Regions from separate parts of the Homo sapiens genome. Here region 2 is linked to region 1. The links come from fine-mapping of genetic effects on gene expression. A gene starts in region 1. The other region holds a variant in brackets. All regions are shown on one strand. Distances are between the middles of the regions.

Region 1 (16,341 bases):
CCGAGGCAGGTGGATCACCTGAGGTCAGGAGTTCGAGACCAGCCTGGCCAACATGGCGAAACCCTTCGCTACTGAAAAAAAAAAAATTAGCCGGGTGTGGTGGCGTGCACCTGTAATCCCAGCTACTCGGGAGGCTGAGGCAGGAGAATCACTTGAAACTGGGAGGCAGAAGTTGCAGTGAGCTGAGATGGTACCATTGCACTCCAGCCTGGGCAAAAAGAGTGAAACTGCGTCTCAAAAAAAAAAGAAAAAGAAAAGAAAACTCCTGTTCTGCAAAACTTATTGCAAACAACAGACAAGCCATTTCTATGTAGATCCTGTAGAGAAAATCAATTTCATATGCATTGCAGCATATTTGGCAATAGAAAAAATTGGAAACAACTGATATCCATCAGAAGAAAGCAACCATTGTGAATTATTCATAGGATAGAAATCTATACAATACTAAATGTAACAACATGGATCAATCTCTAAGATCTAATGTTGTGTTAAGAAAGTAAATTTCAAAAAGGTATATTAAATATTATACCAATTATATAAAGTTTAAAAACAAACATATATGTATATATCATGAATACATACATACATATAAAGGAAAGTATAAAAGTAGACATGGAAAGAATACACACCATCTTGAAGATAGTGATCATCATGAGAAAAAATCCACTGGTCTGAAGAGTACTTTTTATCATGAGAACTTTTGATTACTAAAATTCTGAAATAAATTTAGTAAAATCTTCCCAGTGAATGTATAGGTGTCTGTTATTTTCTGTATGTTGGATGTATTTCATATTGTGAAAACATTTTAAAACCCCAAAGTAAACTTAGAAATCAAACACAAAAATTATATTTTTATAATCCTATTTTTATAAGATCTTCCTGTCTACTCTACATGTAACTATATAACCTGTATAACCTATATATAACTGTAACTATATAACTTATATATACATATATAACTATATAACTTATATAGATATAAGTTATATAGATATGTTATATATATGTAGACAGGAAGAGACGTGTGTAACATATATATAACATATCTATATGTGTTATATATGTATACATATGTATATGTAACTTATATATATCTTACTGCACAATCATGGCTCATTGCAGCCTTGACCTCCTGGGCCCAAGTGATCCTCCCACCTCAGCCCTCCAAGTAGCTAGGAAAACACGCAAGTGCCACCACACCTGGCTAAGTTTTTTTATTTTTGTAGAGCTGAGATTTCCCTATGCTGCCTAGGTTGGTCTCAAACTCCTGGGCTCAAGTGATCTTCATGGGAGGATATATCTTATCAGAATTTTATCTGAATTGTATTCAGATTTCCATATATATGCAAATTTGAATAAAATATGGAGAAATAAAAAAGCAAAGCTTTTTGTCTTTTATGTATTTATATGTTCTTCTCATTATAAATACACATATATAACATATATATAACTTACGCATATATAAGTTCTACCTTTACCTTCCGGATAAATAGATAGATCTAGAAAAATGTTCACCTAATATTAACATTTTATAATGAAAACACTGGTGTTTTTTCCTATATTATGCTTCTCAGTATTAATGAAATTTCTAATAATGATCATGTATCAATATTTTTTCTAAAAGACAAAAAGGCTAGGTGCTGTAGCTCACACCTATAATCCCAACAATCTGGGAGGCCGACACAGGAGGATCACTTGAGCTGCGGAGTTTGAGATCAGCCTGGGCAACATAGGGAGATATCAGCTCTATGAAAATTTTTTTAAATTGCCAGACATGGTGGCTCACATCTGTAATCCCAGCGCTTTGGGAGGCCGAGGTGGGCAGATCACCTGAGGTCAAGAGTTCGAGACCAGCCTGGCCAACATGGTGAAATCCTGTCTCTACTAAAAATACAAAAATTAGCCAGGCATGGTGGGGTGCACCTGTAGTCTCAGCTACTCAGGAAGCTGAGGCACAAGAATCGCTTGAACCCAGGAGGCAGAGGTCACAGTGAGCTGAGATTGTGCCGCTGCACTCTGACCTGGGCAACAGAGTAAGACTCTGTCTCAAAAAAATTAAAAAATTAAAAAAAAAATTAGCCAGGCGTGGTGGCACTTGCCTGTGGTCCTAGGTACTTGGAGGGTTGAGGTGGGAGGATCACTTGGGGCCAGGAGGTCGAGGCTGCAATGAGCCATGACCGTGCCACTACACTCCAGCCTGGGTGATGGAATGAGACCCTGTCTCGAAAATAATTAATTAATTATAAGAAAAAAGGCTTTGCTTTATTTTTCCCCATATTTTATTCAGATTTCTTTAGTTTTACGTGATGCCCATTTTCTGTTCTGGGTTGCCACATTACACTTAGTAGAAGTTTATGTCTCCTTAGGTTCCTCTTAACTATAATGGTCTCTCAAATTATCCTTGTTTTTGATGACCTTGACAGTTTTGAGGTGTACTAGTCAAGTATTTTGTAAAATCTCCCCCTATTGGAATTTATCTGTCATTTTCTCAAAATTACACTGGGGTCATGGATTCGGAGGTGGAAAACCACAGGTGTAAGATACCATTTTCATCATGTCATAAAAAGGGTACATACTAGGAACATAACCCATAGCTGTTGATACTGACCTTGATCACCTGGCTGAGGTAGTGTTTGTCATGTTTCTCCATGGGAAAATTACTTTTTTTTCTTCCTTCCATACTGTCCTCTTTGGAAAGAGGTCACTACGTGCAGCCCACACTTAAGGAGACAGGACTTTTACTCCACCTCCTTGAGGATGGAGTAGCTACATAAATTATTTGGAATTATTCTGTGGGAGATTTGTCTCTTCTTCTCCATTCATTCATTAATTTACTCTCAGCATGGACTCAAGAATATTTAATTTTTTACTTTGGGTTATAATCCATTACTACTTTATTTTCTTGCTCAAATTGTTGGAGCTTTGGCCATCCAGAGCTCTTTTAATTGACTCCTATGTCTCCTTAACATACCCTCCCATGTGTGTTTTTTCTTTTGTGTTGTATCAATTTTTCAAATCAATTCACAAAAAGATGAATGTATTAATAATTAGACTGATGCTAATAGGTATATTAACGGTGCTTATGTAGTATTAGGCACATAGACCTTAATGATAAGACGCTGATACATACAAATCAAACTTTTTTTCCAGCAAAATATTGAGTGTGTGTTTATTTACTTAGCTAACAATATTAGCTCAACAATATTATTACAAAGTTCTCCCTTTTTGAATTCTCCAAGTTAGAGAAACACTGACAAATCTATGGTATTAGTAGGCACTAACCTTTGTGGACCACTTACTATTTCAGGTACCATACTAAGCACTTAACATCTAGTACTCTGCTTAATCTTCACAACCTCAGAGCTAACCCCTGAGGAATGTGAGGCACTCCAGGAGTCTAGGCCACTGGTTCCCAAAGTGTGGTAGAGACCAGCAGGTTCAGTAACACCTGAGAATTTGTTATAAAGGCATATTCTTGATCCTCACCTCAGACCTCCTAAATGAGAAACTCCGGGGCTGGGGCCTAGAAAACTGTGTTTCAACATGTCCTGCAAGTAATTCTTGCTAATGCTTGAGAGAGCAGTGGAGCCAGACTTTAAATCCAGATATTAGACATCAGAGCCCATCAAAGCCCATGTACTTAATTACTTAATTGTACTCTCTCCCTATTATACTAAGAAGAAGACCAGTAATAGGTGATTTCTAGTTAAAAACTGGTCATAAAAGAGATAGCAGTCCAGGGCAGTTTCATTCTATTCCCTTTGTCTTCCAGTGCTTGACCAAGCAACTTTAAGTATTAAATTTACCGCTAGAGGGAGTCCCGACATTCCTCAAATGCTGAACCTTTTAAAAGCATGTAAATAAACACACACTCAATCCTTTGCTGGAAAAAAAAAAAGTTTGATTTGTATGTATCATCATGAAAACAATTTGTTTAAGCTACTTAACATGGAACAGCTGCATTTGGAGTGATATTGTTAGGCACAAATCTACTTTTAACAAATAAATACAATATACCATGATTGGTCACTTAACATCTTCATTTCTAAAACAGAACTGAAGAAGGGAAGGAGGAAACTCCAATTAGCAAAATAATAATATACTTTAAATTAAAATAATCTAGTTTAAACTACATTATCATCTCTAAATTCCTGATGAAATGAGACTGGAAAAGACTTCAACAAAATTAGCCAGTTGCCTCTACAGTGTCTCTTTCCGCATTGCTCTGAGCACTTGAGTTCAGGAATGTTAAATTCAGCACCTAGTACGTGGCAAGTTCTCCGCAAGTAATGCTGAATACTTAAATAAAGCTAATGCAACTCTCCGCCTCCACTAGGCCCCCCTTAAAACATGCTAAATAAATTGGAGTTCATTCAACGTTACACGAAATAATATTGTGCTGTTTTCACAATAAATATACAAATATCACATAGTAGTTCAGAAAAGTGAGACCCTATAATGCTTATAACCTGAAACAATAATTTCGAGATTTTGAAATGCTATACTCAGCGATAGATGGATCCTATGACACACACCCTCCTTCTTCCAAATATGGAATGACATTAAAATGTTTCAACTTGTTTACAATCTTTGCAAAAAATCACTTTTTTGTATTTTATTTAATTTTCTATTTCAATAGGTGTTTGGAGAGCAGGTGGTGTTTGGTTACATAAGTTCTTTAGTGGTGATTTCTAAGATTTTGGTGCACCCATCACCTGAGCAGTGTACACTGTGCCCAATGTGTAGTCTTTTATTCTTCGTCTCCCCCTCCCAATTTACCCCCGAGTCCCCAAAGTCCATTGTATCATTATTATGCCTTTGTGACCTCATAGCTTAGCTCCTACTTGTGAGAACATCTGATGTTTGGATTTCTATTGCTGAGTTACTTCACTTAGAATAATGGTCTCCAATTCCATCCAGGTTGCTACAAATGCCATTATTATGTTCCTTTCTATGGCTGAGTATAATCCACTCATATTCCATGGTATATATACACATTTTCTTTATCCACTCATTGATTGATGTACATTTGGGCTGGTTCCATATTTTTGCAATTGTGAATTGTGCTGCTATAAACATGCATGTACAAATATCTTTTTTGTATAATGACTTCTTTTCCTCTGGGTAGATACCCAGGAGTGGGATTGCTGGATCAAGTGGTAGAGCTACCTCTAGTTCTTTAAGGAATCTCCACACTGTTTTCCATAGTGGTTGTACTAATTTACATTTCCACCAAGAATGTAAAAGTGTTCCCTTTTCACCACATCCATGCCAACATCTATTATTTTTTGATTTTTTGATTATGGCCATTCTTGCAGGAATAAGGTGGTATTGCATTGTGGCTTTGATTTGAAAAAAAAAAAAAAAAAAAAATCACTTTTAAGAGAGAAAGAGATCCTGGTACTCTGGAAAGAACATTGAAGAAAGAAGACAAAGATTCAGTTCCACCTCTGCTATCTAATCATGCAATTCTGGCCAAGGCACTTGTCCTCCCAGGCCACCAGCTCCTCTTTGATGAGATAATGTGTCCTTGGAAAAAGTATAGCCTATAAGAAAGAACATGCCTCCAAGTAGTAAAAAGATTTGAGAACAATTGTGTTAATGCATGTTTTTTAGATATCTGTTGACAGAAGAGTAAAATCAAGAGCCCGTATCTTAGGAGGAAATTTCCTTGAGCACTTTCATTTCCATATATTGAGTACAGATTGAAGAGGGATAATTCAATATGCTTCTGTTCAACAATTATGATACCATTTACCAAGCATTTGCTAACAGCTTTAAGAGTTACACAATAGATCCCAGCACTTTGGGAGGCTGAGGCGGGCAGATCACCTGAGGTCGGGAGTTTCTGATCAGCCTGACCAACATGGAGAAACCCGGTCTATACACCCGGGAGGCGGAGGTTGCAGTGAGCTGAGATCACGTCATTGCACTCTAGCCTGGGCAACAAGAGCGAAACTCCACCTCAAAAAAAAAAAAAAAAAAGAGCTACACAATAAATAACTTGCTTTAACACATCAATAGCTTCACATTGATACAAAGACAATGATTGTAATGGTTAATTTTATGTGTCATTAGGCATTCCACCAAACATAATTCCGCATGTCTGTGAGGGTGTTTACGGATGAGACTAAAATTTGCATAAAGGAGAGTGCCCTCCCTAATGTGGGCAGGCCTCATCCAGTCAATCGAAGGCCTGAATAGGAAAAAAGTCTCAGTAGGAGGAAACTGCTCCCACCAGACTGATTGACTTGGGACGTCATCTTTTCTAGCCTTCCCAGTAGGACTCAGTCATCTGTTTTCCTTGGGTCTCCACCCTGTTTGCTTTCAGACAGGAAATAAACCATCAGCTCTTCTGGTTCTCCAGCCTTTGGACTTGAACTGAAATGACATATTGGCTCTCCTGGGTCTCCAGCTTGTGAACTGCAGATTCTGGGACTTCTCGGCCTACATAATTACTTCAGCCAATTCCTTATAATAAAATTATACAATATATTATATATTATATTATATTATATTATATTATATTATATTATATTATATTTACAAACACAGACTATTAGTTCTGTTTCTCTAAAGAACCTTGACTAATACAAGAACCAATCTCTACACTCCTTAGCATGGCCAAAATGCCCTATACGACCTGGTTTCCATCTACCCCTCCAACTAAATCTCAGACAGAACATGATGCCACCTCCTCCACTCCACCCTCATCAGCTTTCTTCCATGTCCTCACACATACTGTGTTTCCTCTGTCATGGGGTTTTCACTCATTTATTTATTTATTCATTGATAAACTCAACTAATTATTGAATTTCTACTATGAGTCAAGCACTGAGGTTGTACTGGGAATATAAAGTGAACAGGTAACAATGTGGCTAGTTTCATGGAGAATATGTTCTAGTCACAGAAGACAGAAATAGATCTACAGCCATACCTGAACATGCCTGATCTTGGAAGCTAAGTGAGGTCCAGCCCGGTTAGTACGTGGATGGGAGAAGACAGAAATAGCATGTAAATAAACAGGTTAATTTCAGGACGTGACATGTGCTTCAAAGGAAACAAAACAGGGTGAAAGAATCATTTGGTGATCAGAGAAAGCCCCACTCATAGGTGTTTTTTAAGTACAATTTTATATGAAGGGGCCATCCATGTGAGGACTTGAAGAAGGAGCATTCCAGGCAGAGAGAATTACAAACACAGAACTAACTGTGAGATAAGTTTATCTATAGATAAACACAGAGAGAGAGAGAGAAGCTTATATACATATATATGTGTGTGTGTGTGTGTGTATATATATATACACACACACACACACACACACACACATATGGCATGTGTCTATAGCACAGTGGGGCAGCAAGAGAAGGTAGATAGGTAAGCGGAAATGAGATAAAGCCTTAATAGCCAGAATAGGATTTAAATTTTTATTTGAAGCACACTGAGAGGCTTTGGAGGGTTGACATCATCTGATTTAATGTTTGATTTCACACTGCGATGTTTAACAGTGGACATGGGGAGACTAGTAAGGGAGGTTTGCAGTAAGGATGATTGGTGGTAGCAGTTTGGATTATGGGGATGTAGAAAAAAATGAAGAATGATTCAGGATATATTTTGGAGATGGAACAGATAGGAATTGCCCATGTGACTGGAGAAAAGAAAGGGTAACTCCTAAGTTTTTGACTTGAACAATCAACTGGGCAATAGCATCATTTTCTGAGATATGAAATTCTGGGTAGAGATGGGAATGGGGCTGGGGGAGGGCAAGGGGACAAACTGCTCATACTGTCCTTCTCTTGGGACTGTTTTTCACTCCCTCTTCACCTAGTTGACTCCTTCCTATTCTTTGGATCTCAGCTCAAATGTCACTTTCTCAATGAAGTCCTTCCCTGATGAGTTCAAACCAAACCTCTATATTAAGTATACACTCAATTGCTGCCATGTAGTTTCCCCTAATAGTAGACTGGAAAAGTAGCCACCAATTCCTCTACCAACCACACCATCCGTAACATTTCCACTGCCCTCTCACTCTGATCCCTCTAGTCTAGGCCACATGGCTTGCATCCGCCAATAGTGTATCAGCAAACATAACATAGGCAGAGACTTGAAAGGCACTTGTGCAGTTGACTTGTCCTGCTCCACTGTTTTGGAACTCTGAAACCATGGAAAGAAGCCTGGCTGAGGTGCTAGACAATAAGAAACACGTGGCCCCTGCTGACGACCTGCCAATGCCGTGACACAGAAGTGAGGCCTCTTAGATCATCCAGCCGCCAGCTGACCAGAAAGGTGAGTAAGAGCCCAGCTGAGCAGAACCAAGGTAAAAGAACCACCCAGCTCACTCAGAATCCCAAGCTAACCAAACGATTGTAAAACGTCACTAAGTTTTGTGGTGATTTGTTACACTGCAAAAGTGGATACAGTAGCACATACCTCAGTGGCAATTTTACACATCTTTGATTAGCTTCTATCACTGCCACATAACTGTGAGCTCTCTAAAAGCACAGACTATTCTGACCTTAGGTTACTGTGCCAACCTCAAAGCCAAGCATAATACCTGGAACACACCAGGCATCCAACCAATAACATGCTGAGCGAATGCAAGGAGCAAAGAGAGATACACATTGTAACACAAGCGAATAGGGGAAGTTCAAAACAAAGGACTGAGGACATCTATTTGTACAAAATAAAAACTTTTAATCAGCAGCACACGGCAGCGAGGAATACAAGACCAAAATCACATTTAATCTGTCTCAAAGGGTTCAAAGTCTAGGGTACAGGAGGCAGTACAAAATCAACGAAGTGTACTGTTTGAGCATTCCAACACTTCGCTCCTTCAGACAGTATTAGGACCCCGTCCCAAAGCGTTAGGACAAGGCCCTAACGCTGCCTGAAAAAGTGAAGTGACGGAGGATCCCAGAGAGGTTTCTTGAAGCAGATAAAGTCTGAATTGAGGCCGGGCCCGGTGGCTCACGCCTGGAATCCCAGCACTTTGGGAGGCTGAAGGGGGGCGGATCACTTGAGGCCAAGAGTTCAAGACCAGCCTGGCCAACATGGCGAAACCCCGTCTCTACTAAAAATACAAAAAATCAGGCCAGCATAGTGGTGCACGCCTGTAATCCCAGCTATTTGAGAGCCTGAGGCAGGAGAATCGCTTGAACCCAGGAGGCGGAGGTTGCAGTGAGCCGAGATTGTGCCACTACACTCCAGCCTGGGCAACAGAGCGAGACTCCATCTAAAATACATATATAAATAAACAAAGTCTGAATAGAGTCCTTGCAGTATTTACTGGGAAAAGCAGCACACGCAAGGCCAGGAGGGTCAAAGGGACAGAGGCGTTCAAAGGACAAAGGAGAGCCTCCTGTTTGTTTGGGGTTTTATTCTTTTTGAATTTTTGTTCCCCCAGGCCAACTCTAAGAGCCAGAACTGTTCGTTATTTATCTCAGCACAGGTTCGGTGTAAGCGTTGCCTCCTTACCCGACGCTCAGGCCCTTCAGGTCCGGGACCCCTGCTTCTTAATTATGTTTCTATTACTCCCAGTGTCTAACACAATCTCTTCCACGAAGTCGGAACTTGATACATATTTGCTGAATAAACGAAAAGTTAAAGATGAGGCAGAAAGCACAGCTCCTTCCAAGGGCAGCTCTCAAGAGCCCACGTTTTCAGATTCAGCAGTGAAGCGGACGCGTCTGGTACGAGACTACAAGTCGCACAGGCGGAGAGGGGGCCCCCGGGCCTCTGGTTTCACGTCTCCCTCCTGGTCCCCGGCGGACCGGCGTCTTTTCTCCCCTGCTCGGAGTAGCCTAGCAGCGCTGGAGGCTGGCTGTCTGGTAAGCGCGGCTGTTAGAGAGGATGGAGGCGCCGTAGCCCCGCGGTGCTTCTCACAGCCTTCGCCGGCAGGGACGCGCGGGACAACCGCGCAGGCGGCTCTGCAGGGGTGGGCGCGCCATCACCCCTCTCGGTCCCTGCCTGCTTGGCGCTTTCCGAGCCCCAGCCGCGCTCAGGCTGCCTCGGGCATTGACCGCGGGGGCGCGCGCCCCGTTTCCATAGAAACGCCCGGCCTGCCGCGGCGGCGCGAGGGGCGGGCTTTCAGGCTCCCGGCGGCTGCTTGCGCCCCAGCGCGCGCCCAGGCGCCTTGGAATCCCCGTCCTTGGGCCCCCGCAAGGTCCCCGGCCGTGCGCGAGGCAGCATGATGAGGCGCACCCTGGAAAACCGGTAACAGCCCGAGCCCAGCTGCCCAGGGCCGCCCACACTGGAGGGCTGGGGTGAGGGAAGTGGAAGCCTCTGTCCATGGGGCCTCTGCGCCGAATTCCGACCCTGAGTGGGAGGCTGCACGGTCCCCGCTGTGACCTGGGGCCTAATTCCTTGGGCTGCAGCCACCGCCGGCGGCGAAGAGGAGCCCGGGGCCCGGCCGGCTGCCACCCACCCACGCCACCGGGTCTCGGGTCCCCACACTGCCGCGGGCAGTGCGGAAGCCTAGGAGGCAGCCGGGCGCCCAGGCCGCGCTGCGCGGAGCAGCCGGAGCAGCCACCTCCCCAGTTAAGGCCAGGCCCACCCGGCCTGGGCCTTTTCCTGTGCCTACACAGTCCGGATAGTGAGGTCAGGACCCCATGGAGAGCAGTCCGCGCCGGGAGACGCTGGGTCGTTGATGGGTTTACGCCTTCAAAGCTGCAGAATGCCCGGGGAATGTTTGCATGTTAAATTAACGTGAAGCCTTCTCATCTCTAACGAGAATGTTTTGCCTTTTGTGTCACCTTTTCCCTAGGAACGCTCAAACGAAACAACTGCAAACAGCTGTCTCAAATGTGGAGAAGCATTTTGGAGAACTGTGCCAAATCTTCGCTGCCTATGTGCGGAAAACTGCCAGGCTGAGAGACAAAGCAGACCTCCTGGTGAATGAAATTAACGCGTATGCTGCTACAGAGACCCCGCATTTAAAGCTGGGCCTGATGAACTTTGCAGATGAGTTTGCCAAACTTCAGGATTATCGACAAGCAGAGGTATGGAGTGAGATCACAGTGTCATTGTTATGAATGAGCCATGAAGTAGTGGATGAAGGAACCGTGGAAACTTTCACTTGTAATCTACCTAACTGCAGAGGTGGATGCAAACTTGATAAAACGTACATTTTCATAAGACTGTGTGAGTCTATTAAAGAGAAGCGTTCTGTGTTTTATTTTACCCTTTTCAAGCTAACCTTTAGGGCATCTTGAGGTCTTGAATTTCCCCACTTTATTTGCCAACTTTTGGCCAAGGGGTGGCTGTTTACTGGGGGTAGTGGGAATAGTACCCAGGGGGAAGAAAATAAGCATAACTTAATGTCTTGTGTGGCACATAAGTACGTTTTAAAGAATGACTGGAGATGGAAATGTTGGGAATGGTAATGTGGATGGATAAATTATTAATAAATGGGTAAGACATCATTGCTGCATCCATGGTTTGGAAAATTGACCAATGGTTTACTAACAACAACAAAATGCTATGAATTGTATCATGGAAGCAAACCAATACTGAGACACCGTGTGGACTTTTTGCTCTGGGTAGCAGGAGAAGTGTCCTTGTGATTGTTTTCTTTCTAAAAGCCCATATTTTTCCTTTAAATACTTAATAAGCACTTTTACTTGTATTTATTTTCAGTTTCACGGCATAGGTTAACTTATCAGAAGTTGCCCAGTTAGAACTGCGTTGCTTTTTTATACTTTTCAGAACCTAAAACGGGAATTTCAATTTTCAAAAAACAGAATGAGTATAAAAAAAATTGAACTCATCATTGCTATCCATACAAATTTGAAGAGTAATCATATTTGGAGGTACTTTTGGAAAAATGTGGAGTTCTTGTCATGAAACTTCTGTAATAAACAAGTAACTCTCAATTATATATGATAACTGGGGACTTAATGTTTCAAAGATAATTTATATTCACAGGTAATCCTAAAATCTTATTTTAGCCAATAATTTCAATGCCCCTTTGTAGAAAACCTTTGTGCTATTTATCAAATAGCAAAGTGAATTGATTTGCATTTGTTCTCCTTTTATTTCCCTTGCTTACCAAATGGTGGAGGTCCTAATGAACAATGACAAAAAGGTAGGCAACAAAAAGGAGAACAGAAAAAAGACTTAGATAATCCTTAAACTGAATAATCAGTATGGATTATAAGAAATGGTGTAAAGCAAACTGTCCTGAATATCCATGATTTTAGGATTCCTAATATTTGAATACTTGATGAGAAGTCGATTTTTATTTTCCTAACATGTTTTAAAATGAAACATTCATATACATTTCATTTACAGAAACTAAAGAAAAATCAATATGAAATTAAGTGTATTTGTCAATTATATAAATATGTATCATTAAAAAGCCCTTTTCCTGCTATTAAAAAATGTTCATTTTAAGCAATTGAATACATCACCTATCTTGAGAAAAAAAATTTTAATGTCCAAGAGTTATTTTTCTTATGCTATATTTAAATACTTGCCTTAAAAAAAATCTCTCTTCAGTGCCTTCCACTAGTACTACTTGTAAAAGAAGTAATTACTCAAAATGTGATTTAAAAACCTGTAACGTTTAAGAAAAACTATTTAATTCTAAATGAAACAGAGATGAAACATACAGTTTGACAGCTCAGCAACTCAGACCATTTATCTTGTTCTGTAGGCTTCGATAATTCACAAATGGCTTCTCAGAAAAAAAAATGCAGCAAATACAGTGATCTCTAAGCTTTTTTGCTTTTCAAGGTTATGTTGCTTTAAATGTTTCCAAGATGCTCTGTCTTTCAGCTTTGATTTTCTTTTCTGAAAAGTTGAGCTATTACAGTTCAGAGATAATATATGCAAAGTATCCATTACTGTGCTGAACACACTGAAAATGTTAGCTGTATTAAAATTTGAACTGTCTTAACACCCTTAAACTACTACTTTAAGGTAAAAAAGTAATCCTAAGATGATGATGTGGCCAGGATGAGCTCCTGGGAAACCTGAGACATTTTCTTGTCATTTTGCTCACCAGGTGCTTTTCTACTTTTACTATTACTGTGCAGCTTAACAGTTTTTAATGTGTTTTGAGTTTAGATTCTGAGTCTTATCAATTTCTAGTGATTAGCCTTTTATTTATAGGTTAAAATGTTAAACGTTCTAATTTAAAATTTTAATAATTTTCAATAGGTTGAAAGACTTGAAGCCAAAGTAGTTGAACCCTTGAAAACTTATGGGACCATTGTGAAAATGAAACGGGTAAGTAAATCCATTTTCTCACTTAACTGTGAGTTACTCTGGCAAAGACTATGAGGTTTCCAATTGTTTTTTTAAATAAGAAATACAAAGTAGTGGCCAAGAGTGGTGGCTCATGCCTGTAATCCCAACACTTTGGGAGGTCGAGGCGGGCGGATCACGAGGTCAGGAGTTTGAGACCAGCCTGGCCAACATAGTGAAACCCCGTCTCTACTAAAAATAAAAAAAATTAGCTGGGCATGGTGGCATGCACCTGTAATCCCAGCTACTCAGGAGGCCGAGGCAAGAAAATCGCTTGAACCCAGGAGGCAGAGGTTGCAGTGAGCTGAGATAGCGCCACTGCACTCCAGCACAGGCGACAGTGTGAGACTCTGTCTCAAAAAAAAAAAAAGAAAAGAAATACAAAGTAGTATATAGTCATTCTTTTTACTCTGAAAGATCACTTAGATCTTTAAGAATAATGAAATAGTTTTAATGAGCTTATTAAGTATACTGTAGCAATATAGACATTATTATGGAAACTTTAAAATAATTATGAAAAATATATGGACAGAAATTGCTTTACTATATGAATATAAGTTTTTCTTTAAAGCGATAGCATTTAGACTTTTAAAATGTGTGAGAGAGTTCTATTTTTAAAAGTTACTTTATTGATAATTTACATCAGCAGTCCCCAACCATTTTGGCACCAGGGACCGGTTTTGTGGAAGACAATTTTTCTTTAGTTCACAATAGGGTTTGCACTCCTATGAGAATCTGATGCTGCCTCTGATCTAACAAGAGGCAGAGCTCAGGCCTTAATGCTAGCTCGCCCACCACTCACCTGCTGTGCTGGCCCAGTTCCTAATAGGCCTGGGGGTTGGGAGCCCTTGATTTATGTGCGATAAAATTCTTCCATTTTAAGTGATCATTGAGTTTTGGACAAATGTTTATACCCATGTAACCACTACCGCAATCAAAATTACACATTTATATGCATATATCTATTATGGTTAATAGTTTTGCACTGAAATTGTGTCATTATTTTGAGAGAATATTAAACACATTCTCACATACATAGACACTAATTATGTAATACTTGTAATTCCTGTGGTAATGGTACCAGGATCACACAAGAAGTATTCTTCCATTCTTAAAACAATTCTTAAAAGAATTCTTCCATTCTTAAAACTGAATTTTCTTAAGTCAGACATTTTTACTAACAAAAAAATGCCAATTTGCAGGATGACCTCAAAGCAACACTCACAGCAAGGAATCGAGAAGCTAAGCAATTAACTCAGTTAGAAAGAACACGTCAGCGAAACCCATCTGATCGACATGTTATTGTATCCTTTGAATTTGGGTCTTTAAAAAAATGTTTAAGGTATGGAGTACAAAAGTAAATGTATATAGAAATTGTGCATTTTTACTTTTAAACGAGTAGAGAATTTGAATATAAAGATTGAAAAGAAATGCATTTAGGAATTCTCACTATAGAAATTTTAAAGAGGTTACGCCACCTAATTCAAATCCCCTTATATTGTTTTACACAGTAGACTTTGCAAACGAACAAACAAAAAATTCAGATGTTTTTATAAACAGTAAATTCAAATTTCTGAATTTTATTTTCACATGGTGATGACTAAATATTAATTCTACAATTAAAGATCTATTGTTAATCCTAATATATCAGTGTCCTCTATGCCCTGCTTTGAGAAAAGGAAAGAAAATTTTCCCATTTAATTTCCTTCATCTTTTAGAAATAAAACAACTATGTGACATCATGACTTCCAGCCAGTTAACCTCAGGAGTCTTAAGAGTATAATTAAGATCCAAGTTGGACACAAACCTAGAAAGGACTGTCTACTATAACAAGGTTCTTCTGTTAAACATGACTTTCTTAAACTACAATGTGCCTTGTTCGTGAGTAAACAAAAGCATACAAAATAGTGCCTAATTGCCAGCAACTGAGATGGGTAGGACTGTGTAGAAAGCACTAACATCTGGCTGGGCGTGTTGGCTCGTGCCTGTAATTCCAGCACTTTGGGAGGCCGAGGCAGGCAGATCATGAGGTCAGGAGTTCGAGACCAGCCTGGCCAACATAGTGAAACCCTGTCTTTACTAAAAATACAAAAATTAGCCAGGCATGGTAGTACACACCTGTAGTCCCAGCTACTTGGGAGGCTGAGGCAAGAGAATCGCTTGAACGTGGGAGATGGAGGTTGTGGTGAGCTGAGATCACACCACTGCACTCCAGCCTGGAAAACAAAGCGAGACTATCTCAAAAAAAAAAAAAGAAAAAGAGAAAGAAAGCACTAACATCCCTACTGCCTCTTTTTCCCATTCCTTCTTCTATATGTCTCCTTCCTGCTTCCTTAAGGTTGTTACTGCCCAGCTCAGCCAGAAACCACATGAGGAGTGGCTCTTTGAGAGCATTTGAGGTTCCAGAACACCTCCATTCCTGAGGGGAGTCTCTTGAGCAGCGATTTGGGGCTGCGCCAGTTGCTTGGTCCTTCTTCCTTTGGACCAAAGGTACAGAAGCCCAACTTTGTACTAAACAAAAATGGGCAGCCATAGGGCTGGGAGTGCCCACTGGAGACTGGGACAGAAATATCTAGATAGTCATAGTGGCATAAGATCCGCAAATGGAGATTATAGAATCTGTGTTTTAAGCAAGTCAGACAAACCAGAGAATGCTGGAAAATTTATGACTGATAACTAGAGATCAAGGCAGAGGCTATGGGGCAGGGTGGGTGGGGGGGTTCACCAGTGTTTAAGAATTAAGCTAGGGATGAAAATTTTTTGTTTTGTTTTGTTCTTTGTGGCCTGGAGTTGGGGAGGTGGTGATACATGAAGACATCTGGAATCCTGAGTAGTTGGCAAGATTGAATCAGGAGTACTGGTGTCTACAGTAAACACAGAAATGAATCTATTCCTAAGACAAACATTTTTCTGACTTGGATGCTGTGCTGTAAACACTGCTGTGGAAGGGAGATAATCTTAGAGCACAGATGAAGCAGGTCTTTGGGTTCACATGGTGAGGAAATAAATATAACCTAAGAGATTACTGCCACAGGTGAGTCAGTGTGCTCACTGGGTAAGATCTGCAACTTGTGTATTTTGACAACCTGAGACCAA
Region 2 (16,341 bases), 150 kb after region 1:
CTTGACCTCCCAGGATCAAGCGATCCTCCCACCTCAGCCTCCAAAGTAGCTGGGACTACGGGCATGTGCTACCATGCCTGGACAGACTTCAGTGTTGAGCCTATTTTTATCCCCTGAATAACTGCCTATAGGCAAGGACACTTGGTGATGTATAACCCTTAGGGCACTGCTCTCTGTCCCTAAAGCACACTTAAGTATTTTTTTCTGATTATAAAAAGAGTATATATTCATTTCATTGTAGAAATTTTGAAAACCACGGAAAACCAAAGAAAACAAAAACTACCTGTAATTCCATCATTAGAGGTAACCACAGATTACATTTGGTTTTAGCATATTTCCCTAAGACATTTTCTTTGCATTATAAATAACATATAACATATTTATACTTTTTTCCATAAGGGGGTTACCATGTATACTATACACATTGTTTTGTAGCCTGCTCTTTAAGCACCACAGCATAAGTATATCTCCCTGTAATTAAATATTCTTCACAAATGGGTTTTAAAGATACTATTATTTAAAAAATGGTTCCTTCCTAAAGAAGTACACACTAGGGCTAAGTTCATTTACTGAGCCCTTGAACTACTCGTAATGACCTTTGAGAGATCACTCAAGGTCAAGGCCAAGCCCTCTTTAACATGGCTTCATGACCTACTTCCCGGGCTTCTTTACTCCTCATTGCTCCATCCATGCTCAAACCCTAAGTGCCACAGATACCAGAATGAATTCCTGTAATAAAGCAGTTGGTCATTCAGCCAGTCCGTGTGTCTGTCTGCCCTCCTTCCTTCCCTCTCTCCTTGAGGTCTGAAAACCTACCCTGGTCTCTCTCTGGAAAGCTCTCTCTTATTGCAACTGCCTTACTCCTTACTCATCTTTTGGCTGTTAGCCTGGACTTCCCTCCTCGGGAAGCCTTCCCGGATCCCTCATGACCAGGTCAGGTGTCCCTTTTCTAGGTCCCCACAGCCTCCTCACTTCCCTATTCATAGCAGACAAGAAAACTTGTTAGGACAGGGACCATAACTGCCTAGTGTGTTCACAAAGTTGTATCCCCAGAACTGACAACAATATGTATCATATATTATATATTTATTTATTAGCTTATTGTTTATGTTATCTATTTCCCTATGAGAATAAAAGCACCATGAGTAGGGGTCTTGTCTGTCTTATTAGCTACTGAATCTAGCCCCAGTACCTAGAGTTCTGTTAACACCTCAAAGTATACTATTAGTATTAGTCTGTTCTCACACTGCTATAAATAAATACCTGAGACTGGGTAATTTATAAAGAAAAGAGGTTTAATTGGCTCATGGTTCTGCAGGCTGTACAGAAAGCAGGGAGGCTTCAGGAAACTTACAATCACAGTGGAAGGGAAAGAGGAAGCAGGTGGCCAGAGTAGGAGCAGGAGGGAAGAAGAAAGGTGCTACACTCTTTTAAAAACAACCAGATCTCATGAGAACTCACTCACTGTCACGAGCACAGCACCAAGAGGATGGTGCTAAATGATTCATGAGAAATCACCCCCATGATCCAATCACCTCCCACCAGGCCTCACTTCCCACACTGGGGATTACAGTTCTACATAAGATTTGGGTAGTGACACAGATTGAAACCATATCACCATTCCATATTTTTTTCTGTTTGTGGCTGTACATATATATGTGTGTATGTATTGTTTTTTACAGAAATGAGATAACTTTGCATACATTTTTTGTAACCTGCTTTTTTCACTCATCTATATATTGTAAATATAATTTCATGTTAGTAAAATCTTCTATAAGCATTTTTTTCTATCCATCTTCCATTGTTGGACCTTTAAATTATTTTCTGTCATAAACTTTAAAATAAATCCTAACCATCAGTACAGCCTATGAGCAGAAGGGAGCCTTTCTATTTGATTTATACACACATGGGGATTACAAGGTGACACAAGAGAGCTTTCCTTGCCCCCAGTCTTCTTGGTGTTCTGGAACCTGCCCCTTCAGATGGGGTCTGGGAGTAGGTTTGACCTGGCCTCCTTTCTTCCTTTTCTACCTTCTAGCTTTTTACTGCTCAGCTTGCAAGATGCTCAGTTTCCTCTGGTTTGTCCTGAAATGGAGCTGGGGAAGGGATAAAGAAAAGTGGCCTTTACCTCCCTCCCGCCAATGGTTCAGCCTCAGAGAGGAGTGATTACATGTTTCTTCTCTATTGTGTGTCCAGCCACACAATTTTTACAGAGCAGTAGGCTCAAATATCTGTCCTTGCTTGTTTGGGAAATGGTACTTCATTCAGTTTGCAAGCATTCAAAGAGCTTTTCTTTTCTAATTAAAATGCTGCGAACCACCATTTAGCTAAAGCTTTGCATCTATTTTCAATGATGGTTTTAGGAGAACATTCTAAAAGAGTAAGTTCTGGCTTAAAGGTTATATGCATTTTTATTTATTTATTTTGTTTTAATGAGAACAATTTTACTTTTTATTTTTTAAATTTTGTGTGTACACAGTAGGTGTATATGTTTATGGAGTACATGAGATGTTTTGACACAGGCATGCAATGTGAAATAAGCACATCGTGGAGAATGGGGTATCCATCCCCCAAGCATTTATCCCTTGAGTTACAAACAACCCAATTATACTCTAAGTTATTTTAAAATGTACAATTAAGCTATTATTGACGACAGTCACCCTACTGCGCTATCTAATAGTAGGTCTTATTCATTCTTTCTAACTATTTATTTGTACCTATTAACCATCCCCAACTCCCTTCCAGCCCCCACTCCCCTTCCCAGCCTCTGGTAACAATCCTGCTACTCTCTAGTCCAGGAGTTTAATTGTTCTGATTTTTAGATCCCACAAATAAGTGAGAACATGTGATGTTTGCCTTTCTGTGCCTGGCTTATTTCATTTAACATAATGATCTTCAGTTACATCCATGTTGTTGCAAATGACTGGGTCTCATTCTTTTTTATGGCTGAATAGTACTCCATTGTGTATATGTACCACATTTTCTTTATCCATTCATCTGTCAGTGGACACTTAGTTTGCTTCCAAATCTTAGCTATTGTAAACAGTGCTGCAACATAGAAGTGCAGATATCTCACCAATATACTGATATTCTTTCTTTTGAGTATATACCCAGCAGTAGGATTGCTGGATCATAATGGTAGCTCAACTTTTAGTTTTTTGAGGAACTTCCAAGTTGTTCTTCATAGTAGTTGTACAAATTTACACTTCCACTAAGAGCGTACAGGGATCCCTTTTCTCCACATCCTCACCAGCATTTCTTACTGCCTATCTTTTGGATAAAAGCCATTTTAGCTGATATCTCATTGCTATCAATGATGACATCTCATTGTAGTTTTGATTTGCATTTCTCTAATGGTCAATGATATTGAGCAGCTTTTCTATTTATTTATTTATTTTATTTGTGAGATGGAATTTTGCTCTTGTTGCTCAGGCTGGAGTGCAATGGCATGATCCCAGCTCACTGCAACCTCCGCCTCCTGTGTTCAAATGATTCTCCTGTCTCAGCCTCCCGAGTAGCTGGGATTACAGGCATGTGCTACCAAGCCCAGTTAAATTTTTTTGTATTTTTAGTAGAGACAGGGTTTCTCCATGTTGGTCAGGCTGGTCTCAAACTCCCGACCTCAGGTGATCCACCCACCTTGGCCTCCCAAAGTGCTGGGATTACAGGCATGTGCCCAGACTTGAGCAGCTTTTCATATGCCTGTTTGCCATTTGTATGTCTTCTTTTGAGAAATGTCTATTCAAATATTTTGTCCATATTTTGATCAGATTATTAGATTTTTTTCCTTTAGGGTTGTTTGAGCTCCTTGTATATTCTGGTTATTAACCCATTGTCAGATGGGTGGTTATATACTTTTTTCTTTTTTTTTTTGAGACGGACTTTCACTCTGTTACCCAGGCTGGAGTGCAATGGCACGATCTTGATTCACTACAACCTCCGTCTCCTGGGTTCAAGCGATTTCTGGCTAATTTTTGTATTTTTAGTAGAGACAGGGTTTCACCATATTGGCCAGGCTTGTCTCAGACTCCTGACCTCAAGTGATCTGCCCACCTCAGCCTCCCAAAGTGCTGGAATTATAGGCATGACCCACCGCACCCAGCTGTTATATGCATTTTTAAGTCTGGTGCATACATACTGTCAAATTGTCTTCCATGAAAATTGCACCAAGTTACATTCCCACCAGTGGTGTACAATAATGCCTCCCAACACCAGGGATAATCATATTTTTGGTAGGCAATTTGTGGTATCTCTTTTCATTAATGTGCATTTCCCTAACCCATATGTTTTTAGGTAATAGATTAAAAAGTGGTATCTTGTTGTTGCATGAATTTGCATTTTTCTAAAGCTTATTTCTTTTAAAAACTAATAATTTCAAAGTACATTTTTCTTTTTAGTAAACCAATAGAATTTTAAAATTTCCTCTATTAATTCTAAGATCACCTGAGACAAGAAGACAGCAGAGTTTTTAGTCACATCTCACAACCACACACTACAGGCGGTGGAGTTGAAAAGAAAGTGCTCATCTAAGCAACCTTACTGTTTTACAGATTTAAAAAGATAAGGCTGGGCGCGGTAGCTCACGCCTGTAATCTCAGCACTTTGGGAAGCTAAGGCAGGCGGATCACCTGAGGTCGGGAGTTCGAGACCAGCCTGGCCAACGTGGAGAAACCCTGTCTCTACTAAAAAATGCAAAATTAGCCAGGCGTGGTGGTGCATGCTTGTAATCCTAGCTACTCGGGAGGCTGAGGCAGGAGAATTGCTTGAACCTGACAGGCGGAGATTGCGGTGAGCCAAGATCGTGCCATTGCACTCCAGCATGGGCAAAAAGAGCGAAACTCTGTCTCAGAAAAATAATAATAAAATAAAAAATAAAAATAAAAATAGGTCGGGCGTGGTGGCACATGCCTGTAATCCCAGAACTTTGGGAGGCCAAGGCGGGCAGATTATGAGGTCAAGAGATCAAGACCATCCTGGCCAACATGGTGAAACCCTGTCTCTACTAAAAATACAAAAATTTGCTGGGCGTGGTGGTGCATGCCTGTAATCCCAGCTACTCAGGAGGCTGAGGCAAGAGAATCGCTTGAACCCAGCAGGCAGAAGTCACAGTGAGCCGAGATTATGCCACTGCACTCCAGCCTGGTGACAGAGTGAGACTCCATCTCAATAAATAAATAAATAAATAAATAAATAAATAAATAAATAAAAGGTCTAGTGGTTAAACAAAAATGTATCTTAATGAAAGCTGTGATAGTTTAATCAAACACAAAATGAGGTTATTTTGTAGCTGCAAAAATTTCTGTATATTTCAATTTAAACAATATTATGTAGCATGTACTGTACTTGGAAAAAGTTACTCAACAAGGTGCAGCAAGAAAACACAAAGATAAAACTCCTTTCAAGGACTCTATGTACAGAAGTAAGAGATTAATATCAACAAAGTGCTTGATGAAAAGCAAAGGGTTAACAAAGAAAATGTATAGAATGAAACTAAATTAATGAGGACAATTGATGACATAGTCGAATTTGTAGAAACTTGTCAGCATATAATGGAAATTTTTTTTTTTTTTTTTTTTTTTGGAGACAGAGTCTCACTCCATTTCCCAGGTGGGAGTGTGGTGGCGCGATTGTGGCTCACTGCAACCTCCACCTCCCAGGTTCAAGCAATTCTTCTGCCTCAGCCTCCTGAGTAGCTGGGATTACAGGCATGCGCCACCATGCCCAGCTAATTTTGTATGTTCAGTAGAGACGGGGTTTCACCATGTTAGCCAGGCTGATCTTGAACTCCTGACCTCAGGTGATCCGCCTGCCTTGGCCTCCCAAAGTGCTAGGATTACAGGTGTGAGCCTCTGCGCCTGGCAGGAAAATAATTTTTTAAGACTATTTTAGGGGTGTTTTTTTTATATTATTCTGGTGGGGAAAAAAACTTCACATATGACCACAGTTGTATGTACCTCCCATTAATCTGAATGTGGTTGTACAACAGCAGTTTCAGAAGATTGTGCTATCAGATGCCTCTATGTGGAGAAAGAATAGTCTATTCAATCAACAAGCACTCACTTATTCTAAACCTGATGCTATGAAGGATCTACTAAGATCAAAGACAAGGTCTTTCTGTCCTGGAAGGGTTTAGCCTAATGGACGAGAAAGACAAAGAAATAACACGAAACAGTGTGATAAGAGCTATTATCGTCCCATCTGAACCATTGTTGATTGGTCTCTGGGAGTTGTCAGCTCCAGGAAAGCTAGAAACAGGACAGACTGAGGTCAGATGCCAGAGACAGTAGGACCAAGATGCCAAAGCCTTGCCCAGAAGCACAGCACTGGTGTGGAGCTGAGGTCAGATAGCTGCCACGACGCTGGGGCCAGGCAGCTGGCTGGAAAGTGGAGCCAGGGCAAGCCTAGGGGACACATCTGAAGTCAGAAATG[G/T]CAGGGGATGGGGGAGAGGCAGAGCAAGGAAATGGGAAGCCTAAAGCAGGAGGCCAGCGAGAGTTTGTGGGAAGAACATTCTGTTGTGTGGGGGACTTTCTCAAGGCCCTATTGACCAACCCCAGGAAACAATCCACTGCTGACTTAAAGGCTATACTCACCAACCAAGTATCTAACTGTAGGGGTGGTATAAAGTGGTCGGGGAGTCATCAACCTGAATTTTTGAGGCTTCAAAGAAGAAGTAGCAGAGAATATGGTCTGGTCTGTTTGAAGGGTGGAAGACAGAAAGGAAATGGTGCAGGATGAGGCTGGTAAATCGGTACCAACAACCAACATTCATTGAGCACTTTCTCCGGGACAGGCCAAGTGTGAAGGGCTTCACACTCACGACCTTATTTAAGCCCCACAACAACCTTGTAGGATAAACTCTATTATTAGCTGCACTTCACAGATTAAGAAACTAAGAAACTTTGCAGATTAGAGAGTTTACATAATTTCTCTAAGGTTTCACACTATAATGTGAGTTCTAACTCCACAGCTCTATTATTAACTACTAAATATGCTCTGTGGGGCATGACTATAAAGAGGCTTTCTCAGACTACAAGTTCTGCACTTTCTCTTTTAGGCATGGTGATGCCTGTTTGGAGGTATAGCTTAATGTCATCAGAGTAAACTTTAGAGTCTTTGGATCTGAGTTCAAATCACAGTCCTATGACTTGGTGAGACTCCTTGTTCAATTTTCTTAGGCATCATTTTCCTGTTCTGAATTAAGAATAATAACAATGTCTTTTGAAATGTTGTGAGACTTAAATACGACAATGTACATGAAAGCATCGGTTGACTACAAAGCTAAACGTAAATGTTAACTGTTATGCGTTCTACTGTATTTTATATAAACCCTCAGGGCAGCCACGAAGCAGAGTGATATGAGAGCCATCTGGAGACTATTTTAATGATCCAGATGAAGGATGATGACAAGGGCCTACGCCAAGGCAGTGACAGTGAGGGCGGAGAGAAAGGACACATTTAAAGGATATTTAGGACGCTTTACAAAACAGAACCTAATGACAGATTGGATATAGAGAGAGAGAGAGGAAAGGGGGTCAGAATGATTCAGAGTTTTATGTTGAGTAATCGGGTGAATGGTGATGTCATTAATTAAGGAAGAAGAGTAGGTAGGATAATACGTTCTATTTCAGGAATATTGTGACGAGGTGTCTATGAGACATCCAGTAAGCGGAGATGTGAAATGTGAGTGGGACTATGAGGGGGGTGCTCAGAAAAGAAATGTGCCATAGATTCAGATTTGGACATCACTGGGCATTTGTGAGACTAAACCTCTGACAGTGGATGTGATGTCCAGGTAAGACATGAAGCAATGGTTTGTAGCTCTTTAAAGCCAAGGAACCTTTCCACTCACACACAAAATAAATGCTTATGCTAAAACCCAGTTTGCAAAACAGCTCAAAATGAAGCTTTTCTGGTTAAATCCAGAGTGAATTGCCTGGAGCCCACTTCTTGAGACAGCCTCTGAACAGGTTTAACTGAGCCCAGTTTGAGAACCACCTACATGAAGAACAGAAGAGGGTGAGTTAACCACTAAATGGAGTCTGAAAGAAAGCAGCTCATGCAAAATCAGACTGGAATTTTAGTTTTAGATTGTTTGTGAAGAGCTTTTTTGAAACTTTAATGATTTTGGAAACTTCACCCAGTTATTCGCGGTACTAACACTCATCCTGGCCTGCTCTTACGGATGTCTGACCCTGTATTTCAATGTCTATATGTGCCCACCAGAAGCTGCAGAGCCATTCAAATAAAGACAGTTGGCTGAGTTTCCAAGTCTCTCCTTCAAAGTTCATGCACATTAGTTTTCCTTCTTATCAGCAGAGGCTTGTCTTGTACACATCTGCTGGGTCATTCATGCTGAGATCACCACGTTTGTCCCAATTACCATGATTCTTATGTGATCTCTAAACTAGATAAATGCTCATCCACTCAAGCAGTTGTTTAATAAAAGTTATCTCAAATATTTAACTTGTAAGCTTTTTAAGAAGTCGAATTGGTGAAACCTTTTCTCCGAATTAAATCAATTGAGTCTGCTTATTATTTCAACACCGTTGAGGGTTTAATCCTAAATCCACTAAGGTATTAAATCAGAAACACCTAATCATATGATAAGGAAAGATAATAGGAGCAAGAAAAAAGAGCAGAGGGAGGCCAAAAGAAAGAAGCAAGGACATCGGGTGATCATATTAAGAGCTACTTTAAAAACAAAAACAATAGCACTCTAACATATCAGTGATCTAACACAATAAAAATTTATCTCTCACTCAAAGTTCAACGTTGTGGATATTTATGATTGGCATGTGATGGTTCATTTTGTGACTTGGGTACCCTTTTAGAGCCTCTACTTCTTTGCCTGGATCCTTTGCCACTCAGCGAGTAGATTGTGGACGAGAAGACTGGCAAGGGAGAGGTTTCTATGGGCCAGGCTGAAGGTGGGCGCATCACTTCTGTGTAAGTTCCCTCGGCCAGAATGAGCCACAGAGCCATGCTTATCTGCAAGGGGAGTTGAGAAGTATCTAGCTGTGTCCCCAGAGCTAAATGGAAGTGGAGAAAGTGAGCAGCAGCTAGTCTTTGGTACAGATGAAACAAAAAGTGCCCGTGCACAGGTTTTGTAAAAATTAGGAAAAATGAATCCCTGGTACATAAAAATTTTCAGCCTGGGATTCTTCTTATATGGAAACCTTAGTCCCAAGGTCTGAGAGAGGTGCATATTGAATACTCCCAACCCTGTCACAAATATCAGTTAATTCCTAGATAGGAGGGAATTACTATGTTTTTCAGATGTACCAAAGAAAATGTTCATCAATTTTATAGATAAAATCCAATTCTTAAAACATTAAGAAAATATTTTATTTCAAATAATGAAATAAAATATATTTGTATTTGATGCAGCTGAGCATTATTATATAAACTTTTCCTTTACAAACTTATAAAAACTTGTTCACATTCTTACCCCAAAAAAAGTTTTCAAAAAGCTAAACACTTACCCACTGAGTCATAGAATAATTGGAATTCTGACAGGAAGATAACTGTAAAGCAGTTCTTTAAAGAGGAGTAGCACTCTGCTTTATTTAAACCGCACAAAGTAGGTAAGCGTTTTGTGGGTCGTGGATTTTCTAATTCAAGGTGTTATGCAATATGCAGCTGGGCTTTGAATGGCTTCCTCCTTTGTTCTTCTTGCACGCACATGCCATTTGGTGACATCCTGAGGTCTGGGAGGCTATTGGATTAGACTTTCTGAAAAGGAAAGGTTATTCTACACCATGTATAAGAAAAAGCTTTGATGATTCACAAAATTAAAGCTTTTTACTTCCCAGCAGGGGAGATTTCCCAGCCAATATGTTGAAAGGAAAGTGGCTGTATTAAAACTTGCTCCCTGATAGAAACAGAGATCCCAGCTGGCTTTCGCAGGAGGGACAGAGCATTATGATGATGTTGATTAGACAACTTTTAAACAGCACCAGTAGACAAAGACATTTTCAGCCTCCAAAAAAGAAATGGAATGAGTGCCAAGTCTGCATTTTGTGGAGAGTATAAGGCTTGTTCCAGCAAATGTTTTCTCATTATAGAGTAATGCTTGAGGAAGCACACATCAGTTTCGTGCCTCTTCATGATTTGTCTTCCATCTCTTTCTTGTCACCTTTTTAATTGCACTCAGTGTTTTTGCTTCTTCTGCTTGAAGAGAGCACTGAAACAATGTGTATTGGTTTGTAATCAGCATCAGACTTGACTACTTAGTAATTTGTAAAGAGCTTTAAACTCAGTAAAAGAAGGTCTTGGTAGATGTTTCCTTTTGGGGGCATATCAAAAGAAAGTTGTCTTTTTCTTTTCTTCCCCATTTTATACAGATTTTTTAATGCCAGAATTCTATCCTTAATGTATTTTGATCTATAATCATTCTGATTAGACAGCCATTGCAAAAATATCCATAAAACAAGCAGTTCTCCAATTGTGCCTGCAGCATGGTATTTTATGGAGTATGTTAAGTAGAACACCATGGTTCCCGAGGTAATTATAGGTGCTATGTGAATGCAGAATGTATTCATTAATAACAGAATTAATTATTCCAGAATTTATTATATGACTCACATATAACAGAAAAGTCACCCTGTTTCAATTCTCTTTGAATCCTTTTGTCAAGGAGAAAGTTTCAACTTAATGACATTTTTCCAAGCTCTTTTTAATGAGACAAGTTTCAGGCTGAGCATCATCAGCAGACAATTTTATCTACCTCGAACTTAATTACATTTTATTCTCCTTACTTTTATTTTTATTTTTCATCTATGTATAGCAGGTGAAACAGATTGCCCAGTTATCAAATGATACACAGTTTTCTTATAAAATAGTTATAATGCTTAAAAGGGAGTCACTTTAAAGGAAAATATCAAATGGTAAGAGTAAGTGATTTATAGAACTCAACAATGAAGCTATCAGATCCTGGACTTTCATTTGATGAGAGACTTTTTTTATTACCGTTTCAATCTCTTTACTGGTTATTGATTTGTTCATATATTCTCTCTCACCTCTCTCTTGTTTTTTTTTTTTTTTTGAGACGGAGTTTCACTCTTGTTGCCCAGGCTAGAGTGCAGTGGCGGGATCTCAGCTCACTGCAACCTCCGCCTCCCACGTTCAAGCAATTCTCCCGCCTCAGTCTCCTGAGTAGCTGGGATTACAGGCATGCTTCACCACACCAGCTAATTTTGTATTTTTAGATGAGATGGGCTTTCAACGTGTTGGTCAGGCTGGTCTTGAACTCCTAACCTCTAGTGATCCACTCACCTCGGCCTCCCAAAATGCTGGGATTATAGGCATGAGCCACTGCGCCTGGCCATATGTTTTATTTCTTCATGATTCAGTCTTGGTAGGTTATATGTGTTGAGGAATTTATCCATTTCTTCTAGCTTATCCAATTGTTGTCATATAATTTGTTCAGAGTAATCTCTTATGATCCTCGGTATTTCTATGGTATCAGTTGTAATATCCCCTCTTTCATTTATTTAGAGAAAGTCTTCTTTAAAGAGAGAGTCTTTCTCTTTTTTTCTTAGTCTAGTTAAAGGTTTGTCAATTTTGTTAATCTCTTCAAAAAGCAAACTCAATTTCATATAAAGAAGAACATTTGAAGAACTAATACTTAATGTTTCTCAAACTCTTTCAAAAAAATTGAAGAAGAGGGAATACTTCAAACTCATTTTGCAAGGCCAGCATTACCCTGATACCAAAGCCAGACAAGGACACTATCAGGAAAGAAAATTATAGGCCAATGTTCCTGATAAACATAGATGCAAAAATCCTCAACAAAATACTAGCAAACCGAGCTCAACAGTACATCGTAAGAATCATTCACTATAATCAAATGGGATTTATCCCAGGGATGCAGGAATGGTTCAACATACACAAATCAGCAAATGTGATACGTCATATTTAAAGAATTAAGGACAAAAATCATATGATTATCACAATAGATGAAGAAAAAACATTGGACAAAATTCAACATTCTTTCATAATATAAACTCTCAACAAATTAGATATAGAAAGAATGTACCCCGATACAATAAAGGCCATATGTGACAAACTCACAGCTAACATCACACTCAGTGGAGGAACAAGAAAAGGATACTCGATTTCTCACCATTTCTGTCCAACATAGTACTGGAAGTCCTAGCCAGAACAGTTAGGTGAGAGAAAAAATAAAAGGCATCCAAATTAGAACAGAAGAACTTAAGTTGTCTCTGCAGACAACATGATCTTATATATAGAAAACCCTAAGTCCTTCACCAGAAAAATGTTAGAATTAATAAACAAATTCAGTAAAATTACAGGATAGAAATTCAAAATACAAAAATCAGTAGAGTTTCTATGTAGTACAATGCAGTATCTGAAAAAGAAATTTTTAAAAATCCTATTTACAGATAGCGGCAGCGAGGGGCTCGCTGACGTGCTTGGATTCTCGTAGCTGTGCTGGGATTTAACCACCATGTCAAGCAAAAGAGCAAACACCAAGACCACCAAGAAGTGCCCTCAGCACACGACATCCAATATGTTTGCTGTGTTTGATCAGTCACAGATTCAGGAGTTCAAAGAGGCCTTCAACATGATTGATCAGAACAGAGATGGTTTCATCGACAAGGAAGATTTGCAGGATATGCTTGCTTCATCCGGGAAGAGTCCAACTGATTGGTATCTGGATGCCATGATGAATGAGGCTCCAGGCCCAATCAGTTTCACCGTGTTCCTCACCATGTTTGGTGAGAAGTTAAATGGCACAGATCCTGAAGATGTCATCAGACATGCTTTTGCTTGCTTTGATGAAGAAGCAACTGGCACCATTCAGGAAGATTACCTGTGAGAGCTGCTGACAACCATGGGGGGATGGGTTCATGGATGAGGAAGTGGATGAGCTGTATAGAGAAGATCCTATTGACAAAAAGGGAAATTTCAATTATATTGAGTTCACATGCATCCTAAAACATGGAGCAAAAGACGAAGATGACTGAAAGAACTTCAAGTTCCAGCCAAACATTCCTTGTTGCCACTTGGGGTATTTCTGAGATTTTTCTCTTGCATGCCCTTAGCTTTACAGCTTTTGCATTTCCTGTTGTATTTATTCTCAGCCATTTGGGGCACCTGTATCTTTATACTCAGACTGGAAATGGGACTTTCTATTAATATCATTTTCAGAATAGAAAATAGGGTAATTGGCCAGGCACGGTGGCTCATGGCTATAATCCCAGCACTCTGGGAAGCCAAGGCAGGTGCATCACGAGGTCAGGAGTTCAAGACCAGCCTGACCAACATGGTGAAACCTGGTCTCTACTAAAAATACAAAAATTAGCCAGCATGGTGGTGCACACCTGTAATCCCAGCTACTTGGGAGGCTGAGGCAGAAGAATCGCTTGAACCCAGGAGGTAGAGGTTGCAGTGAGCCAAAATTGTGCCACTGCACTCCAGCCTGGGCAACAGAGCGAGACTCCGTCTCAAAAAAAAAAAAAAAAAAGAAAGAAACCAGGCATAGTTGCTCACGCCTGTAATCCCAGCACTTTGGGAGGCCAAGGCAGGTGGATCCAAAGGTCAGGAATTCAAGACCAACCTGACCAACATGGTGAAACCCCATCTCTACTAAAAATACAAAAATTAGCCGGGCGTGGTGGCATGGGCCTGTAATCCCAGCTACTCAGGAGGCTGAGGCAGGAGAACTGCTTGAACTTCGGAGGCAGAGGTTGCAGTGAGCTGAGATTGCGCCACTGCACTCTAGCCTGGGCGACAGAGCAAGACTCTGTCTCAAAAAAAAAAAAAAAAAGAAAAAGAAAACAGGGTAATTAAACCTACCAGCCCCTCCCCACTAATAACTGTGATCTATACAGTGTCAATATATTTTTTCAGAGAAAGTTATTTGTTCATTTTTTTCTGAACCATAATTAAACTTTATGGTAAAATTTTAAAATTTTTTTAAAATCCTATTTACAATAGCTACCAAAAAATTTAAACAGGAATAAATTTAACCAAGGGGGCAAAAGACTTATACGCTGAAAATTATAAAACATTGATGAAAGAAATCGAGGAAGACACAAATAAATGGAAAGATATCCCAAGTTTATGGAAAGGAAGAATTAATATTTTTAAAATGTCTATACTGTCCAAAGTGATCTACAGATTCAATGCAATTTCTATCAAAATACCAATGACATTTGTTCACAAAAAATAGAAAAAAAATCCTAGAATTTATATAAAGCCACAAAAGACCCCAAATAGCCAAAGCAATCTTGAGCAAAAAGAACAAAGATAGAGGAATCATACTATCTGACTTTAAAATACACCACAGGCTGCTATTCTGGGCATGCTGCCTATGGGGTAGTCCTGCTTCACAAGGAGCAGTAAAATATATTTTAAAATAAAATACAGTACAAAGCTATAGTAATCAATGCAGCATGGTACTGGCACAAAAATAGACACAGAGTCCAATGAAACAGAATAGACAGTCCAGAAATATTAATAAATCCACGTGTTTATAGTCAATCGATCTTCCACAAAGGTGCCAAGAACACACAATGGGGAATGGAAAATCTCTTCAATAAATTGTGTTGGGACAATTTATTGTGTGTGAGAACAACCTGGCCAACATAGTGAAACCCCGTCTCTACTAAAAATACAAAAATTAGCCAGATGTGGTGGTGCATGCCTGTAATCCCAGCTACTCAGGAGGCTGAGGCAGGAGAATCACTTGAACCCAGGAGGCAGAGGTTGCCGTGAGCCAAGATCATGCCACTACACTCCAGCCTGGGCAACAGAGCGAGCCTCTGTCTCAAAACAAACAAACAAACAAAAACCAAAATATAAGGAATGCTGTCTTAATCTCTCTGTGTTGCTATAAAGGAATACCTGAGGCTGGATAATTTACAAAGGAAAGAGGTTTATTTGGCTCATGGTTCTGCAGGCTGTACCAGAAGCATGGCATTGGCATCTGCATCTGAGGGCTCAGGAAGCTTACAATCATGGCAGAGGGGAAGGCGAGCCTGTGTGTGCAGAGATCACATAGTGAGAGAGAGAGAAAACAAGAGAGAGGGAGGAGGAGGTGCCAGGCTGTTTTCAACAACCAGTTCTCTTGGGAACTAAGAGTGAGAACTCAGTCACTTGAGAATGGCATCCAGCCATTCATGAGAGACCCCTCATGACCCAAACACCTCCCACCAGGCCCCACCTCCAACAATGGAGATCAAATTTCAACATATGACTTGGCAGAGCCAAACTATAGGAAACTCAAACAACTCAACAGGAAAAAACAAATAACCTGATTTTTTAAATGGGAAAAAGGATCTGAATAGACATTTCTCAAAAGAAGACATACAATGAATGGCCAATAGGTTTATGAAAAAATGCTCAAAATTACTAGTCATCAAAGAAATGCTAATTAAAACCACAAAGAGATATCACCTCACACCTGTTAGAATGACTCTTATCAAAAAGACAAATGATAACAACTATTGGAGAGTGGAGAAAAGGGAACCTTTGCACACTGTTGGTGGGAATGTGACTTTGTATAGCTATTACGGGAAGCAGTATGGAGGTCCTTCAAATAACTAAAAATAGAACTATCATAGGATCCAGCAATCCCACTACTGGGTGTATATACAAAGGAAATGAAATCAGTATATTGAAGAGATATCTGAACTCCCATGTTCACTGCAGCATTAATCACAATATCCAAGATGTGGAATCAACCTAAGTGTCCATGAATAAATGAATGGATAAAGAAAATGTGGTACAGTCATCCCCTAGTATCCATAGGACCTTCCTCAGATACTAAAATCCGTAGATGCTCAAGTCCCTTACATAAAATGGTGTGGTATTTGCATATAACCTATACACATCCTCCTGCACACTTTACATCATCTCTAGATTACTTAGAACTCCTAATACAAGTAAATGTTCTGTAAGTGGTTATTATATTGTCTTATTTAGGAAACAATGACTAAAAGTCTGTACGTGTTCTATACAGATGCAACTATTCATTTTTGAATATGAATTGAATATTTCAATTCATAGTTGGTTGAATCCACAGATGCAGAACTCACAGATATGAAGGGTCGACTGCATATATACATAATGGAATAATATCCAGCCTGAAAAAAGAAGGAAATTATGTCAACAAGATGGATGGAATTGGGGAATATTGTGTTAAGTGAAATAAACTAGGCACAGAAAAACAAATACCACATAATCTCACTTATATGTGGAACCTAAAAATGTTGAGCTCATAAAAGCAGGAAAAAAATGGTGGGTCCTAGGGGTTGAGAGCGGGGCTGAGATATTGGTCGAACAGTACGAAATTTCAGTTAGATAGGAGGAATA

The links. PIP is the estimated chance that this variant, and not a neighbour inherited with it, causes the effect.
Region 2: its variant is the best candidate, but not a certain one, in a credible set for the expression of CIBAR1 in blood mononuclear cells (TOPMed, PIP 0.62).

The regions. Positions count from the first base shown.
Region 1 is chr8:93,690,462-93,706,802 of GRCh38, forward strand. It overlaps CIBAR1 (CBY1 interacting BAR domain containing 1), which reads left to right and starts at 10,089. Exons shown (of 9, transcript NM_145269.5): 1 at 10,089-10,212; 2 at 10,763-10,997; 3 at 13,159-13,227; 4 at 14,448-14,549. The coding sequence starts at 10,187. CIBAR1-DT (CIBAR1 divergent transcript) reads right to left here and starts at 9,972. Exons shown (of 11, transcript NR_033858.1): 1 at 9,475-9,972. RefSeq lists enhancers at 9,608-9,687, 9,717-10,341 and silencers at 9,908-9,957, 9,988-10,127, 10,318-10,437.
Region 2 is chr8:93,837,092-93,853,432 of GRCh38, forward strand. It overlaps the pseudogene MYL12AP1. Among named protein-coding and RNA genes, the nearest start is that of MIR378D2, 71 kb to the right of the region's middle. RefSeq lists an enhancer at 9,060-10,259. The variant G/T (reference allele first, on the strand shown) is at 6,430.